Linked DNA regions of Homo sapiens: all the other regions are linked to region 2. Evidence: fine-mapped expression QTL. A gene starts in region 2. Each other region holds a variant in brackets. All regions are shown on one strand. Distances are between the middles of the regions. Region 1 overlaps GABBR2 (gamma-aminobutyric acid type B receptor subunit 2). Region 2 holds the start of GALNT12 (polypeptide N-acetylgalactosaminyltransferase 12). Region 3 overlaps GABBR2 (gamma-aminobutyric acid type B receptor subunit 2).

Evidence for each region. PIP is the estimated chance that this variant, and not a neighbour inherited with it, causes the effect.
Region 1: its variant is the best candidate, but not a certain one, in a credible set for the expression of GALNT12 in cerebellar hemisphere (GTEx, PIP 0.57).
Region 3: its variant is the best candidate, but not a certain one, in a credible set for the expression of GALNT12 in whole blood (TOPMed, PIP 0.82).

The regions. Positions count from the first base shown.
Region 1 is chr9:98,669,223-98,674,918 of GRCh38, forward strand. All of the region lies in intron 1 of GABBR2 (gamma-aminobutyric acid type B receptor subunit 2), which reads right to left. Among named protein-coding and RNA genes, the nearest start is that of GABBR2, 37 kb to the right of the region's middle. The variant G/A (reference allele first, on the strand shown) is at 3,123.
Region 2 is chr9:98,804,372-98,810,067 of GRCh38, forward strand. GALNT12 (polypeptide N-acetylgalactosaminyltransferase 12) reads left to right here and starts at 3,299. Exons shown (of 10, transcript NM_024642.5): 1 at 3,299-3,698. The coding sequence starts at 3,328. It overlaps LOC124902229 (a long non-coding RNA gene), which reads right to left and starts at 3,209. Exons shown (of 2, transcript XR_007061689.1): 1 at 2,400-3,209. RefSeq lists silencers at 3,181-3,270, 3,371-3,440.
Region 3 is chr9:98,480,164-98,485,859 of GRCh38, forward strand. GABBR2 (gamma-aminobutyric acid type B receptor subunit 2) reads right to left here. Exons shown (of 19, transcript NM_005458.8): 5 at 769-834. Among named protein-coding and RNA genes, the nearest start is that of GABBR2, 230 kb to the right of the region's middle. The variant G/T (reference allele first, on the strand shown) is at 3,286.

The sequences.
Region 1 (5,696 bases), 140 kb before region 2:
GGTGTTTTTTTGTTTTTTAATAAAAGCCATCCTAATGGGTGTAAAGCGGTGACTCGTGGTTTTGATTTGCATTTCCCTAAAGGTTGGTGAACTTGACCATTTTTGCATGGGCTTAATGGCCATTCGTTTATCTTCTTTGGAGAAATGTCTATGTAAGTCCTTTGGTCATTTTAATTAGGTTGTTCTGACATTTAAACTTTTTAAATGTAACCAGTCATCCTCAATACCTTTTGTTGATAAATTCAGTTCTTCTCAATCATTTCACATTCTAATTTATTATATATTAAATTATTGTATTTATTCAGGCACGCTTCTAGAGTTTCTATTCTGTTCCACTGACTGGCTATCTCTTTTTGGTTTTAGAGCACAATGTTTTAATTAACATAGCTTTATAAGTCATCCTATTAGCTGTTGTTTTGTTTTGCTTTATGTTGCTTCAAATCATTTTAGGAAAATGGCAGAACATTAATACCATAAGTCTTAAGACCTAGGATGTTATTGATTCATCACTCCACAAATACATGTGGAAGACTATTGCTGGGATTGAGGATGCAGAACAGACTAGGGGCAGGGGCTGGGGGCTGGCACAGTCAATGGGGCATGTACATGCAGGAAACCAGAAGCACACATCATGAGGAATCTAGTCCAAGGAGTCAGGAAAGGCCTCCTTGAGAAGGTAATGTTTGAGCTCGAATCTTAACAAGGTAGAACCAAGAGAACGCAACCAGGAGAACGAAGCAAGCGACCAGGGCGGGGGTGGGAGGATGCAGCCAGGCAAAGGGCAGAATGCCAGCAAGCCACGTGTGCAGTCTCCAGCTGAGATGGGACTAGGGGAGGATGAGGGCCAGGCAGAAGGGCCAGCCGAAGGACTGTGGACTTTCTGCTAGGAAGAGTAGGCCATGGAAAGCTTTTAAAAAATAAACAGGTTTATTGAGATATAATTCACATATACAAATTACCCCTTCAAAGTGTACAATTCAATACTTTCTAGTATATTCACACATATGCACAATCACCACAGTCAATTATAGAACATTTTCGTCACCTCAAAAAAAAAAAACCCAAATACTATGTAACATCCATTATAATGGCCACTACCAAAAAAGTCCAGAAAATAACAAGTGTTGATGAGGACATAGAGAAATTGGAACCCTTGGGCACTGTTGGTGGGAATGTAAAATGATACAGATGCTATGGAAAACAATATGGCGGTTCCCCCCTAAAAATTATCATATGGTCCAGCAATTCTACCTCTACGTATATACCCGCAAGAATGGAAAGCAAGATTCCAAACAGAAATTTGTGTGTTCATGTTCATAGCAGCATTATTCAGAATAGCTGAAATGTGGAAGCAGCTCACATGCCTGTCAACAGATGAGTGAATAGCAAAATGGAGTGTATACATACAAGAGAATATTATTCAGCTTAAAAAGGAAAGAAATTCTGACATATGCTACAACATGGATGAAACTGGAGGACGTTGTATTAAATGAAAGAAGTCAGTCACAAAAAGACAAACAGTGTATGATTCTACTCATCTGAGGTACCTGGAGTAGTCAATATTGTAGAGACAGAAAGTAGAATGGTGGTTGCCAAGACTAGAGGGTGGGAAGAATGGTGAGTTATGGTTTAATGGATACAGAGTTCAGTTTTACAATATGGAAAGAGTTATGGACATGGGTGGTGGTGATGACTGTACAACATTATGAATGTATTTAATACCACTGAACTGTACATACACTTAAAATGGCTAAGAAGGTAAGTTTGATGTTATGTGTATTTTACCATGATTAAAAAAATGGAAAATGCAACCTAAATATACCCAGACCTATTTTTTAAAAGACACCAATAAACAGACATCATCTTGCTTTCATTAAAAAGACAAACAGGAAAATAATCCCATACCTTTAGCAACCACTGCCACCCCCCCGCCCCACTTCCCGCTCTCTGCCAATCTCTAAGCAACTACTAATCTACTTTCTGTCTATGTATTTGCCTATTCTGGACATTTCACACGAATGGAATCCCACAGGATCTTATGTGACTGGCTTCCTCTTTCACTTAATGTTTTTAAGGCCCATCCATGTCGTAGCATGCATCAGTACTCCATTCCTTTTTATGGGCAAGCAGTTATCTATTTTATAGATCTACCACATTTTGTTTGTCCATTCGTCAGTTGATGGACATTTAGATTCTTTCCACCTTATTGGCTATTCTAAATAATGCTGCTATGAACATGAATGTACAAGTGTTTAGGTAGACATATGCTTTCATTTCTCTTGGATACATACCTAGGAGTGGAACTGCTGGGTCATATGGTGACTCTATGTTTAATCATTTAAGCGACTGCCAGACTGTTTTCCAAAGACCATTTACATTCCCACATGGAATGAACAACGGTTCCAGTCTCTCTACATCCTCACCAGCACTTGTTATTATCTGACTTTGGATTTTAGCCATCCTGGTGGGTGTGAAGTGACATGTCATGTGGTTTTGATCTGCATTTGCCTGATCAAGGAAGGCTTTTAAATGGGGGCCCAATACAATCAGACTTTTGAACAGTTCACTCTGGATAAAGAATTTGAGGACAGCAAGAAGTCCATGAGGTTGTGGTTAAGAGGCCACCGCTGTTGTCTCGAGATGATGGTAGCTTGGACTATGATCAAAGAGATGGTAAAAAGCAGAGAGTTGGAGAACTAGCAGATAAAACCTACAAGGTCTGGAGATCACTGGGTGGGGGCATGAAGGAGGTATCAAAGGTTTCTTGTTTGTAGAACTGGGTGGATGATGGTGCTCTCACCAAGAGAACCCAGAAATATAATTTTTAATTGTGATGAAAAAATACATAATATAAAATTTACCATCTTAACCTTTTTAAAATGCACAGTTCAGTAGTGTTATGCACATTCGCAATGTTGTGCAACCAATTTCCAGAACTTTTTGTCTTTGCAAAACTGAAACTTTACACCCTTAAAAAAACAACTCCCTATTTCCCCTCTCCCCCAGCCCTGGCGACCACCATTCCACTTCCCGTCTCTGTGAATGTGACTACTCAGGAAATCTCATATAAGTGAAGTCAGACAGTATTTGTCTTTTTGTAACTGGCTCATTTCACTTAGCAT[G/A]ATATCCTCAAGGTTCATCCATGTTGTAGCATGTGTCACAACTTCCCTTTTAAGTGAGAACACAGAAATATTTTTTACTGACCAGCAAAAAGCATAGGTTTATTCAAACCACTTTCTTCTTCAATACTACACTCAAAGTTTGAATCTAAGCCTTCTTCAGATGCAGATTCTCAGGGTTCGTCTGAGTCGGTGCCTGTCTTGGCCAGATGGGCACAGCATTCTGCTGAAGCCCTGCTGTTTGTGACCCAGACTGCAAGACCTTGAACCCCTCAGCATCTTTCAAATGAACAGAACAATTCTCAGGCAAACCCAAGGATAAAGGAGATAAGGGCCTTTCATCTGAATTTCCTATTTGGTTATTTGCTGTTTCACTTTTCTTTAATTAAATTATCTGCTGATGGGAACTAGACAGTTTATCTTTAAAGTCTGTCCAAAGCTTTTAATAATTTCGGGCACTTGATATTCCTTCATGACACAAAAGTTGGTCACGGCCACCTCCCTTAACTCTGAAAATTTTATGATCTATTCTGGGAGATTTGGCAATTTCAACTGCCTTTAATCATCTTGGCTGGCACATGACAGCAATCTTCTACATTCACAATAATTGTATTACTTCATTATAGTGTCATCTTCTAAAACACATAATAAGCAATCATTTAGGAATCCAAATGTAAGTTAAAATTCAAGTGACTGTAAAGTCTCCAATGAAATAAGTGACCATAGCAACTGAGGTGGGAAATAGATGAAACCCCATGTACACGGAGATGGTGACAATGTCCACAAGAACTTATTCCTTTGTCCTCTGGCAAGGTACATCCTGGTTTCAGAAACATTAAAATATCCAGGGAAGATGTGCATCTTAGAATCAAGAAGACCCGGTGCATATAGAGAGGCAAAAGGAATATAAGGTTTATGTACAGCCACAGAAAGTGCCAGCTGGCACCAAGAAAATAAAATAGCCAAATAGATAATCGCCTCGTGCAGCACTTTTTATACCAAGAATCATAGTGCATGGTGGGGAAAATGCTACATGTGCAGAGGACAACTAATGAGGACTGAGATGAAGATCTTGAGTCATCAATAAAAGACTGAATTAAAATCACCGTATCTTAGAAGGTGGAATGTGAACAGGACTTATCTCTGAGAGGAGTAGATGAAGGGAGAAAATTATTATACTTTATAAGTATTTTCTTGGTTTTTCTTCTACCATGAATATGTACGAGAAAACGTTTTCTAAGTTGAAAAAAAAAAACAGGGAATAAAAAGATTTTAGAAAGATACACAGGATGGCCAATATCTAAAAGAAAACACTTTTGGTGTTTAAATGTGAAAACTTTAGGTCCCTGAAAATAAGCACCCGAGTACAATTGATGCCCTAAAGATCCTGAATAAACGGGGCATAACAGAGCATGGAAAGCCTTGCATAATTGCCACTATCACTGTGGTTTTCCTATAAAGCACTGTTCGACACACAAGCCCTTGTCTGACCTACGCTCACTGCTAACACTTCAGCTGCTGCCTCTGAAGGTCATGAGGAGCCCTGTTGAGGAGGAGATAAATGATAATGGTTTTTTTTAAGGGCAAAGCCTCGTTTGAGGCCCATCAGTCACTGCAAATCCTGTCCACATACCCCACATCAATCCTCTAGGGAAGGAGAAATGGTTTATAAACTTTGCTTAACAGTTAGAGACTCCCTCCTCCAGCCTTGCACAGTTCAGGCTGTGTGGTCATTTCTGTCTCCATCATCATCTAGAGAGGGAACAGGGGGTTTTTATAAACTTCCCTTGGCAGTTCTCCACTCCACTGCCCAGGATGGTGCCTGGAACACAAAAGGAGCCTAAGATAGAGTAGCTAAATGACATGGAAATCCAAGCTTCCACAGGATTCCCATGTCCAGTTGCTTGTTCTTACAAGTGACTTCACTAAATCCATCCACACAGCCCAGGAATCGCAGTGGTGTCATCAACATTACTCTGAACAAACAGATCCCACCCAATCACGAAAGCCAGGAATGCCACGTGAACATCTGGGGGTGCCATAGGATCCTTCACCTTGTCCATTTTCACTTCAAAGTGCTGGCTCCTGGTCTAGGGGCCCTGAGTGCTGGGTGCCTGGTGGGCAGTGAGGGTTGAGAGTGGGGGAAGAGGCAGAAATAGGTAAGAAAAAAATCCCCACCGCAGGACCTTTTGTGTTCCAGGCACTGCAGGAGTCCAGTGTAGCAGAGGGCAGGGCGGCACCTGGATCTCACACACCTACAGTACAGGACTCGGGTGTGATGGATGAAAGAGGTGAGATGCCCACACAGGAGAGTCCATGACAGATGAGACAAGAAGAGAGGCTACAAGGTGGCGGCCCAGCATGGTGGGGCCAAACTGCCAGCCCTTAGCTGGGTCTCAGAGCTGAAGAGATGTCAGTACTCCTGCTATGAACAGGGCTCAAGGAGGATAAGGGAGACCCTGAGACTGGAGGGTTCAAGGCCATGGAAGAGGCTGTGCATGTGAGCCATCCACAGGGGCATTGTGGAGGGGACAGTGTGGAAGCTTCATTTCTCTCTACACCCTCTTCTCTTTCTGC
Region 2 (5,696 bases):
ACATTTCTAATAAATGTTGCCTAATTGCTTTCCAAAAGGTTATACTAGTTTGCATTCCTACCAACAGTGGATGAGAGTGTTTTTTCACATCCTTGCCAACACTGGAATTAATAGCCATTTTCATTTTTGCCAGTCTGATAGGTGAAAAAATATTTCAGGGTAGGTTTATTTTGTATGTATTTTAGAGAGATCGAGCATATTTTCATACTTTTATAAACTATTTATATCCTTTTGGGTGGGAACTGTCTATTTAAATCCTTTGACCATTTTTATTTCTGTTTGTTCTCTTTATTTCCCTATTGATTCACATACTGGGTAAATGTCATCTGCAAATATCTCTTTCTGACTTGCCTTTTGTTTCTGGACTTTGTATTATACTGGAAGCCTTACAGAATTCAAAATTTTTATATAGTCACATTTAGAAATATTTTCCATATGGTCTCTGGTTTTTCTCATTCAATACTTTTATAATTAAATTCCTTCCCTTCCCTTCCTTCCTTCCTTCCTTTTTTTGCTTATTTACTGTGGCATCTTCAGATCATTTGGAATTTATTTTGATGTAAAGTGTGATGTTGGGACTTGATTTGAATTTTTTCCAAATGGTTATCAAGTTGTCCCAATTATTACTTGAATTAGGCACATGTTCCCCACTAATATTTGAAATACCACATCTACCATAGATCATATTAAACTCTAAAAGGAATGTAATAACTCCTATGAAGAGAGCTAATATGACAAATTAAAAGCATCTTCTAGAGATATCTACTTGTTGGTGAGCAGCCGATGACATAACATGGTACTGTTAGTGAACAGATAAGCCCCCTAAAAATAGCAATAAACCCAAGGGCTTTACCTCTGTTGAAAAGATGCTAGATTTCCAACAAGCTCCCAGGTGGTACCAATGCTTCTGGTCTAAATATCATACTTCACTCAGCAAGGTGCTGGACATCTTCCCTTTGCCTTACTGACACTCTCTCCACTCTGTTTTGTGCCCCGGGAGGCTGACTGTGCAGACTGTATCACTCAATCTTCTCAACAACCCTGTTCAGGTGGTGCTATCATTAGATCACCATTTAATAGATGAGCAAATTGAGCCGAGATAAGTAAAGCAACTTGCCTGAGGTCACACTGCAATTCGTGATGGGGCTGGGTTGAGCTCAGGCAAGTGGGCTCCAAGGTTGTGTTCCGACCTCCTAAGCTAAGCTGCCTTTGCATCTCATTGCAGCCTGCCCAACAGTGAGTGGTGTGGTGGGAAATCCTGGACTGTGAGTCAGGAGACCCAGATACAAATCCTCCCTCTACCGCTTGCATGTTGTGTAACCTTGGGCAAGTTGCTTCACTTCTTGAGCCTACATATTCTCATCTGTCAACCTTGCAAGGTTGTCATAGGGTGAAATGAGAAAGTACATGAAAAAGAAAGTCCAGCAGTTTACAGCACACAGTGTGTGCTCAGTAAACAATAGCTTTTATCTGTTACCTGGGGCTTAAGTCCATGTCTTGTAAGGCCTAATTGCATTTCTCTTTTCTCTGTATCTGAACCTCTATTGAGAAGCATTCCAATTTGGCAAGCGGATCCAAGACATTATGAATTGTAATCCTTGTCTGTTTTCTAATCTGACCGCAGATCTTAAATGTGTTGGGTGTCTGAACAGAGGCCAAAGGGCTCAGGTCCAGACCTACCTAACACAACCGCCTTCTGGCATTAACCAGCAGCCTCCATTCTGCGTGGGAAGCAGGCGGGGCCCTGAGCACTGTGGGAAGAGCCACTTCCCTCTAGTCTAATATTAGCAGCAGGTTGTCCTGAGTGGGAGCTGCTTTGCATGGTTCATCCCAAAACCCACCCCCCTCCTGCAACCTGAGGGAGATTTCCTCTGGGGATACCAGTAGCCAAAGGCTGTATGAAGACAACAGCAAGTCAGATTCTACCTCTACCTGAGCCGCCAAGTTCAAGGTCCTCTCCCCACCCTGTGTCTCAGACCCCGCATTTATCAATGAGATAATTGGACCAGATTTGTGCTTTTTAAACTTTCTGGGCTTCTGGTCTCCTTGAGAATATTTGATAAAAAGCTTTGGACCAACTTCCCATGGTAAAACAAACAACAACAAATAGAGCTTACACTCTATCCTTCTACAGGGGATACAGAATGATTCTTTTCCCTGAGCTAGACACCAGCAGAGGGAGTTCCAGATTAATTTAAGATATGATTTGAAATCTCTGCTATCACTTTTACATTCAGATATCTGTGTAGACATTACTTCATCAGAGAAGCTTTCCAAAACCCCCAAACTAGATCAAGTTCTACTATTCTAAGCCCTTTTAGCGCCCTGTAATTCTTCTTCAAAATACTTAACACAATTCTAATTATCTTTTTAATATTTGTCTACTCCATTAGACTTACTTCGTCCCTGGCAGCTCAAGGCTCCCACAGCAGTGATCTCATGAACAGGGCGGCAGCTTCATGGCCTTTTTTGGTTGTTGTTTAATAGAAACAGGATCTCGCTTTGTCATCCAGGCTGCAGCGCAGTGGCGCATAGTTCACGGTAACCTCCAATTCCTGGGCTCACACAATCCTCCTGCTTCAGCATCCTGAGTAGCTGGCACTATAGGCACGTGCCACCATGCATGGCTAATTCTGAAATTTTTCTGTAGAGATGGGAGTCTTGCTATGTTGACCAGTCTCGTTTTAAGCTCCTGGCTTCAAGTGATCCTCCTATCTCGGCCTGGGATTACAGGTGTGAACTATCATGTACAGCCTTCATGGCCTTTTGCTCCTAGCCTCAGAGGTCACAGAGCTATCACGAGGCGAGCCAGGCGAGGGTTTGCTATTCAAGGACTCCAAAGAGTATGGCAGAGGCTGGGCCTGCAGAAGTCAGTGGGGCAGCGTGGTGTCTGTTGATCTCATCGCACCTCCATCTCCTCATCTGTAAAAGGGAGCTCGTAATCCTAGTTGATGGTTGTTTTATTGGACTGTGTAAAGATCAGATGAGATAATGGCAGTAGAATTCATAACACCCTGCAGGGTGTATTCAGCCAACACTTAGCGCCTACAATATGCCAGGCGCTAAGGGTTTTACCACCACTATCTCTTTAATAATGCACCATAGCCCAAGAAGGAAGATGCAAGTCTCAGCCAGCCCACTTGAAGACCCTGCCGAAATGAGCCACCCCGGGGGCTGCGCTTGGGCTGGCGCGGGGCTGGACGGAAAGGGGGCGGCGCGCAGGTGGGGCGGGCCGGGGGCGGGGCGGCACGGCGGTTCCGGGATCCGGGTCCTGGCCTCCACCGCCGCCTTGGGGCGCGCAGATCGCTGGCTGCAGTTGGCGGGCGCATGTGGGGGCGCACGGCGCGGCGGCGCTGCCCGCGGGAACTGCGGCGCGGCCGGGAGGCGCTGTTGGTGCTCCTGGCGCTACTGGCGTTGGCCGGGCTGGGCTCGGTGCTGCGGGCGCAGCGTGGGGCCGGGGCCGGGGCTGCCGAGCCGGGACCCCCGCGCACCCCGCGCCCCGGGCGGCGCGAGCCGGTCATGCCGCGGCCGCCGGTGCCGGCGAACGCGCTGGGCGCGCGGGGCGAGGCGGTGCGGCTGCAGCTGCAGGGCGAGGAGCTGCGGCTGCAGGAGGAGAGCGTGCGGCTGCACCAGATTAACATCTACCTCAGCGACCGCATCTCACTGCACCGCCGCCTGCCCGAGCGCTGGAACCCGCTGTGAGTGCACAGCTCTGGGGAGGAAGCCCGCCCTCAGAGCCCCGGGCCTCAGTTTCTCCATCAGAGCAGTGGCAGGGCGGGGAGCTGGGGTCTCCAGGATGGCGCGTCTTATTGAGTCTTTCTCCGAAGACGATAGTGTAAGAGCTCACATGGGGGCGGGGAGGCAAGAAAGTAAAAAAGACGAAAGTAGAAAAAAAATTACCAGAAATTGGCAAGTCTGTTAGTGATCTCTTAGCTCCCTTCTCCTTGAGAAGTTATCATCTCCCTGAAAAGGTGAGGGTCAGGGCTAAGCAGAAGGGTTTAAGGCGAGGACCCCCCAGCACCCAAAGGACAACCCCGCTCTGCCCGCCTCGCAGTGCCTCCGCGAAACTGACAACTCCTCCGGGCGGTGACCGGCTCCATTCATTCTCTGTGTGTGCCAGGGCCTAAGGGACAAACAAGATGCGAGGGAGCGCCCCACAGGTGAAGCGAAAGATGGCTGTAAGGCCCCCTCAGCGCTAGAAAGCCTCCTTGTGCTCTCCCTGGGCATTGGATTTCTGAGCTTTGGGTGGAGGAAGGCGGGAAGGGGCACGGGGTGGGAAGGGCTCCTTCTGGCCGTGATCCACCCCAGCTCACTCCTGTGGGTGGTGCTGGACTGGAGCCAGCGTGGTCAGAGGCCTAGTTCCTGTTGGAGCTACTGGCTGGGCAGGTTGCGCCCCTGCCTAGGTGGGGATCCAGGGCACACGCTGGCAGCAGGAGGAAGGACAGGTGGCTGCTGCCACCTTTGCCGCTGGGCCTCCCGGGCTCTCACTTTTTCTTCGAAGTGTCAGGGATCTTCCAAGTCCTTTTTTGAGCCCCTTCCTTACAGACTTTGAGGAAAAGAGGACTCAGAGAGGGGGTTCCCATTGGAGCTGGTGGTGGCAGCCTGCCGTGTGCACCAGGCACCTGCCACTCCTCTCCCCTTCAAGCCATTCCTGCTTTACAGGTGTGGAAATAGGTTCGGAAAGGATAGGTGACCCACCCAAGGCCCCTCAGCTGGAATGTGGTAGGACTGGTCTGGAGGGACTATGGCCCTTCTGGCCCACTTGGCACCATGCTGATCTCAGGATTTTAGGGGCCTGCTCCATGGTACCTTGGCCAGAGAGACCATGAATGATGGAATGAGGATGCCCCACCTCTGCCCCACTGTTTCCACTGTCTTCCCTGTTTTGGGGATCTCCTCATGCCTAGCCTCATGCTTCTGCCTGAGGCATTTTTCACTGTTAGTCTTTTTGAATAAAACTTTGTTGGGATTGATAGTAGTTCCTCCACTCACCAGCCTAACGCATGTTTAGCTCCTCGAAACCCCGAGGGTGCCCGCTGAGGCAAGGTGGAGGGGAAGCTTTCAGGTTATACCCAGCTTCAGATTAAATCCAGCCCAGGGGAGATAAAATCCTGGTTCTTTTGCTCGTCACTTCTGTGATCTCTGGCAAGCTGCTTAGCCTCTCAGAGCCTTGGTTTCCCTTCGTTTGCGAAATAGGAAACTCATAAAAGTGAGTCTCCATGCATTCTACATAAAAGTGAGTGGAAAGAACACAACTTAGGAATTAATAAAGCATCAATACCTGGGAGCACACTGTGTGCTTAAATCTTAGTTTTTTCACCTTTCCCTGTTGCCAAGAATGTACTCAAGAGGTTGCTTTTGAGAGTCATCCAGGGATTGGTTGTAGTTTTTCTTTCCTGGATCCAACTTCCTTTATTGTCGCAGGTTGTGAATATCTCTTTGAAACACTGTGGACAATCTGTGGGGCTTATGGTAACCTGTCTCCATGGTGACGCAGCTGCCCTGTGTCCTCTCAGGATTTGCTTGTAGATCCTGCTGTTGCATTGACCCTGGAAGTTAAGCCAAACCCAGCATGATAAGGAGTGTGAATGCCTCCTGCTTCTAATTCCTGCAGCAAGGCCTGTTGGGTTATTCTTACCCAGCCAGAGAGAAAGGTGAGCCTGAGCTGTGTGGGTCTCTGTTGGGCCAGGCTTTGA
Region 3 (5,696 bases), 320 kb before region 2:
CTCACCTGCCTGGGCTTTCATTTTGTTGACTTTTCTCCTGACATGATGGGGAGGATTGGGAGCTGGGACATCAAAATGGAAACTGACTTAGTTCCTGTGTTCTGTCCCCTACATCTAACTTAAGCTAGAAGTCATATGGAGAAAACCTTTTTTTTTTAGAGACTAGATTGGGGATCAGGTTAATGGGGATGGAGCCTTGGCTCTGCCATGAATTGGCTGAGGGCCCTTGGACAAGTCCCTTTACTCTATGGAGCTCTATTTCCTCATCTGTAAAATGGGAAAATCATAGTTGCTTCACATGGTTATTGAAAAGATTAAATGAGATAAGGCATAAAAAGGTCACCTTTGTCATCTGTCACTAGACAGCTGTAAAGGATTCAGGAGGAGAAAATCAATAGTTGATAATTTGTCCCTAACCTAAGACTCTGAGCCCTACCTACAGGGCAGGGAGGGGGTCTGAGTCACTTCAGCCTCACCCTGATTTCTGGTATCTCCCTGGCTAAGTTGAGCAGACTTAGAATTAGCCAACAAGGCTTAGACTATGGGTTAGACTGAGGTCCCTGGTTCCTCGATGATGGTATTGTTCTGAGCCCTGGGGTTTTAGCTCCCTGGAAAGAGGAAAGAACAGTGAACGCAACTCTTCTGCTTCCAGGAACCCAGGCTCCAGTCCTGTGATCCCACTCACAGACTGAGCAGGGAGATAATGAGTATGGGAAAAAGCTTCGTGAACCTCCCCAAAGACACGAATGATACAACTGTTTTACTTACACAACAGAACACTTTTGCTGCCATATTCTGGTCAAACTGGCCAAGGATGATCCGCACATCATTCCCCTGTGGATGGAAGGACACATCATGAAGGTGAGTAGATGTTCAGCACCCCATAAAGGGTTCAAGGCTGTGGCAGACAACATTCCTTCACCTCTGGCTCTTAGCCCAGAGCTCTGCCTGGGAAGGTGGGCAGGGCAGAACCTCACCCCCAACCCCAGCCCAGCCTGGATTCTCTAGCCCTCTCCAGGGCTGGCTTTCCTGTGGCTCCTGCAGTCAGTCCACCCTGGTCTCATGGGCAAGCCCTAGGGCAAGTCTGTACAGGCTGGAGGCTAAAGCTGACTGCTCTCAGGGGCCTTGCAACCTCCCCTGTTCTCCTCCCACCAGGGCAGGCAAATCCTGCAGTCCATGGAAGCATCATCTAACTTTCTTCCACACTTTACATATAGGAAAACTGAGGCCAGATGAGGAGAAAGGAGCTTCTAAGGCCCCTGGGGAGTTTGTGGCAGAGACAAGACCCCAGCCAACCACACTCTGCTGCCCTGCACAGTGTTCTAGCCCTTTCTACCTTCCTGATAGTTAATCCCTCAAGAAATTCCTGGAGCCTACAGAGCTTCCCAATTAAGAGGTTTCAGACTTGCTTTGAGCTTTGTTCGCATCTCAGCTCTACCAACAAACCATGGGTGGCCTCTGGTCGCTCCTTTTCCATCTCAGCCCCAGTTTCCTCATCTGCAAAATGAGGATAATGGTAGTACGTTCCTTACCGGATTTCTGGGAAGACTAAGTGAAATAGTCCTTGTAAAGTGCTTAACACAGTGCCTAGCACATAGTGAGTGTCCACCTTTATTTCTAAGGAAAATCTATTTTTGAAAGCTCTATACATGGGATTACATTCATTATCTCAGTGTGGTTAATAGGAATGTGTACAGTGACCCCTGTGACTCATTCATTCATTCAACAGACAATTACTGAGCATCAGCCAGAGGCTCTCATGGGTCAGGTAAATGGGGTCTTTGTTGCTTTCTGGGGCATTGGGATCCAGCTGCGTCCTGTCCCATGGAGAAGAACAGGCTGAAAGAGAACGGGTGGGGCGGCCACCAGGAGACCAGCCAGGCCCTGGCCCAAACACCTGCTCCCCATCCCAGCCGCTTCCTGCCCTCCACAGTGAGGCCCAGCCTTGCAGGTGGTGCCACCTTCCTGCAGTTCATCCATCCCCTCCAGCAGGCCTCATGGCCCTTTGATGCATAAAGTAGAAAAATATGCTTTTAAAGATCAGTTTTTAGCATCTTTCAAAATTGGAAAGTGCTGACTGAGAGGCCATTTTACTCATCATGTACTTTAGCAAAATAAAGAAGGCCTGGATTCTAAAATCATCTTTCGTTTGCAAGCAAGAATGGAAAGAAGAGGGGAAAAAAAACACTGGCTCTGAAAGGACTTTAAAAGATCGTTAACAGAGCAGTGGAAGGAAGGCAAGCCTTTGTCATCACCACGTCTGCAATGCTATAAAAAGTTCTAAGCTGCTTCCGTTCTGTGGACTTGCTTCCAGGCATGCTCCAAGATCTTTCTGCTTGTTCGTTAAAAATTTTTAGCATTTTTTGCTGCTGACAGTACCCATGCATCCATCCATCCTTTCATCCAGCAAGTATCTATTGATCATCTACTTTGTGCCAAACCCTGTGTTGCTAAACATGGTATGGTAAAAACAGCTTATTAGATTTTGAAGTCAGAGACCTGGGTTCAAATCACAGCTCCACCTCTGATTAGCTGAAAACTTTGCTTCTTAATCTCCTGGAGCCTCAATTCCTTCATCTCTGAGAAAGGGATAATCCTATCTACCTTGCCCAGTGGTTGTCAATTCATCATAATGAAACTCACCCGGTGGCTTCCATGCTGCTCTCTGCTGGCTCCCCTCGTGCCTGCCTGGCCACTCCTGCTCATACTCCTCATCATCAGCTCCTGACCTTTCTGCCCATCCCTAAATGCTGGTGTTCTGTCCTTAGCTCTTTGCTCCCATCACTCTCCCTGGGCCACCTAGTTCATGACCCCAGCCACAACTGTTCTCTGTGTGCTGTGGACTCCAAATCTCTCCCCCCAGCCTCAGATTTTCTCCAGTTTCCCACCAGACTCTTCCAGTTGGATTCTCTCAGGCACCTCCAGCGCAACATGTCCCAAGCTGAATCCACCAGCTTTCCCAAGAGGCCCTTTCCTCCTCCTGTGTTTTCCATTTCTGACAATGTCAGGAACTTGGGAGTCATCTTAGACTCACTCCTCTTCTTCAACCCTCATCCAAGCCATAACTGGAATCTGTTGGTTCTGTCTGCTCACAACTAGCTCCTTAATCAGTCCCAACCCTCCAGCCCCACTGCCCTGAGTTTGGTTACCATCATTCCTTACTCAGTGAACAGCAACAGCCTCCCTGCACCCTTGCCATGAATCCTGCCCCATCCACCCATCGCCACAGAGCAGAGGAAGGGTTCATTCCTAGATTCAAGTCTGATTGTGTGAAATCTGTCCATG[G/T]CTTCCTGAGGTTTGCAGATCAAACACTGAGCTCCTTAGCACATTCAAGATGTGCTAAAGATAGAGATGGTAAAGATCCTATGCAGTCTTTACCAACTGACTTGTGCTCAATTCTCTATCACATTTCTCATACCCTGCCTTGGCAGTGAGTCCTAAAACAGGACTGCATTCATTCATTCATTTATTCATATTCCCACTTCGCCCCCCACCCATTCTGCAAGTCTATCCCTCCAGAGTGCCCTTCCCTCTCCTCCCACTTACTTTGCCCGCACAGCTGCTACTCACCCTTCCTACCTTAGCCCAGGCTCCTCTGTTCTGAGAAACCATCTCTCTGCCCCATCAGGCTTGGTGGCCACTTCTTCCTCTGTGAGCCTGGATCACCCTGTGCTTGCCTCCAATGTGGCTCAAGTCCACTTACTTGTCTGTCTTCCCCACTGAAGTAAGCGTAACTTGACTTATCTCTAAGTCCCCAGCTCCCAGAACAGGGCGCTACACATATGTCAACAAATATGTGTTGAATGCACGATGAAGTGAATTAATCCAGTGTGCAGCATCACGCACAATGCCTGGCCTACGCTGCTTATTTGGTCACTAGTAGCCATTATCATCACTGCACTAATATCTGACCAACCCCATGGTCTAGACCCTGGGCTCACCATGTCCACTTCTTGAGTAGATCGAGGGACCCACATCTTCATAGCTGACCTCCTGACCACCTGCTGACAGTTAAATAACCAGCTCTGCCACTTGTGAACCATTTGGTGTCTTTGTTGCTATGACAACCGAGTTGCAAGGACCACTTTGTTCAGTGCTCCCAGGCTGTTAGATTTGGATGGGGCCCGTGGGATCCCCCATCTAGCTAATCTCTTCCCAGAGAGGTACAAGCTCTCCCAGGGCTCCACAGAACCAAAATGAAAGCCAGAGCTCTCACTTTGGTTCTCCTTGACCATTAGAGGGCCCTGGAGACAGATCCTATGCAGAGCCAGGTCATGCCTGCTGCAGGAAGCTGTGAACACATACTCTGCTTCTAGACGGTGAGAAAGAGGGGGAAAGACGCTGCCAAGTCTGGAAGGAAGGAGGAGCAGCCCGGAATCCAGGGTTGGGGAGAGGCCAAACGGGGGATGAGGCTGGATGGGGATCTTGGGGGGCACCATAGAGCAGTATAAACAGTTTGAGGTGCTTCTCAAACTAGGGTATGTGCATTCTAGAGCACGAGGAGGTGTCCCGAGTGTAGGAAGTGCAGATATACTGCGTTCTCCTTTCTAAAGTAGCAACTTACTGGAAGATTCAGGGGTTAGGGGAAAGGTTTTGGATTTGGGGAATCTTAATAGTTTTTCCACACATGTGCATGCTCTCATGAAAGTTCCAGAATCATGCTTTTCAATGTTGCATAGCTTGTATCTTTTCCTGAAAGTCCAGAGAGTAGAAAGAAGAAATTTGGGAATAGCAGTAGCCCCTGCTTTCAGACAAGCCCCCTGCCTCCCTGCCAGGGTATGGGCCCATTCTCTTATGCTGAAAGGGCTTGGGGCAGTTTAGGCAGTAGTAGGGGGTAGGGAGGGGCAGCCATAACCATCCCTGAGGATGACAGTGACAGATCAGAGCTGTGATATCACAAAGGACTGGAAACGTGGCAGAGGGCAGGGTCTGGAAAATCCTGTGCCCTTCCAGGGACTTGGCTCTGCAGGGAGCTTCCTGGAGTGAAAGCAGATGACCTGAGTTGGGGCAAATGAGATGGCCAGGTCTAGGGTTGGAGACCATACATGGAGACCTATGTTCACACCCTCAAGAGGCTACTATCACAAGAAAGGGGCAAAAGTGGAAGGAAACAGCGGTGGGAATGGGGTAGGAAAATGGGGAGGGGTATTCAGCCCAAACCCCCAACAGTGACAGGATGAGTGAGGGAGAGGCCCACTAAACTCCCTCTGGAGAGGAGTCTAATGTTGCCAAACCCTGGGTAGCTTTCCTTTTCTTTTTCTTGACCCTGTCTCATCCCTCATCTAGAACCACTTTGTCTCTGGGATGCTTAAAGAGAGCTAAACACACATACACACACGCAGGCACACACACACACAGGCACGCACACACACTCACGCACGCACATGACACTTAGCAAGGATAACCCAATTCAAAGAACTAGCATGTACCCCCAGTTTGCAAGCAATCCTAACATCATAAAAATAACAACTCTCAAGCCCTTTCTGAGCTGTTGTGCTAAACAGTCCGTCAGCCCCACCCTGGGAGGTGGGCGCTGTTATTATGCTCACTTTGGAAAGATTCATGAGCAAAGCAAGGTCCAAAGAATTAAGCAAACTTCCCAGGTGCAGTCCCCTCCTTGGGGCTGGTACACCCGCCCGGCTGCAGTGAGGGTGGGCTGCTGACAGCTCACTCCCTTCTCTGGAGAACTGCCCTCA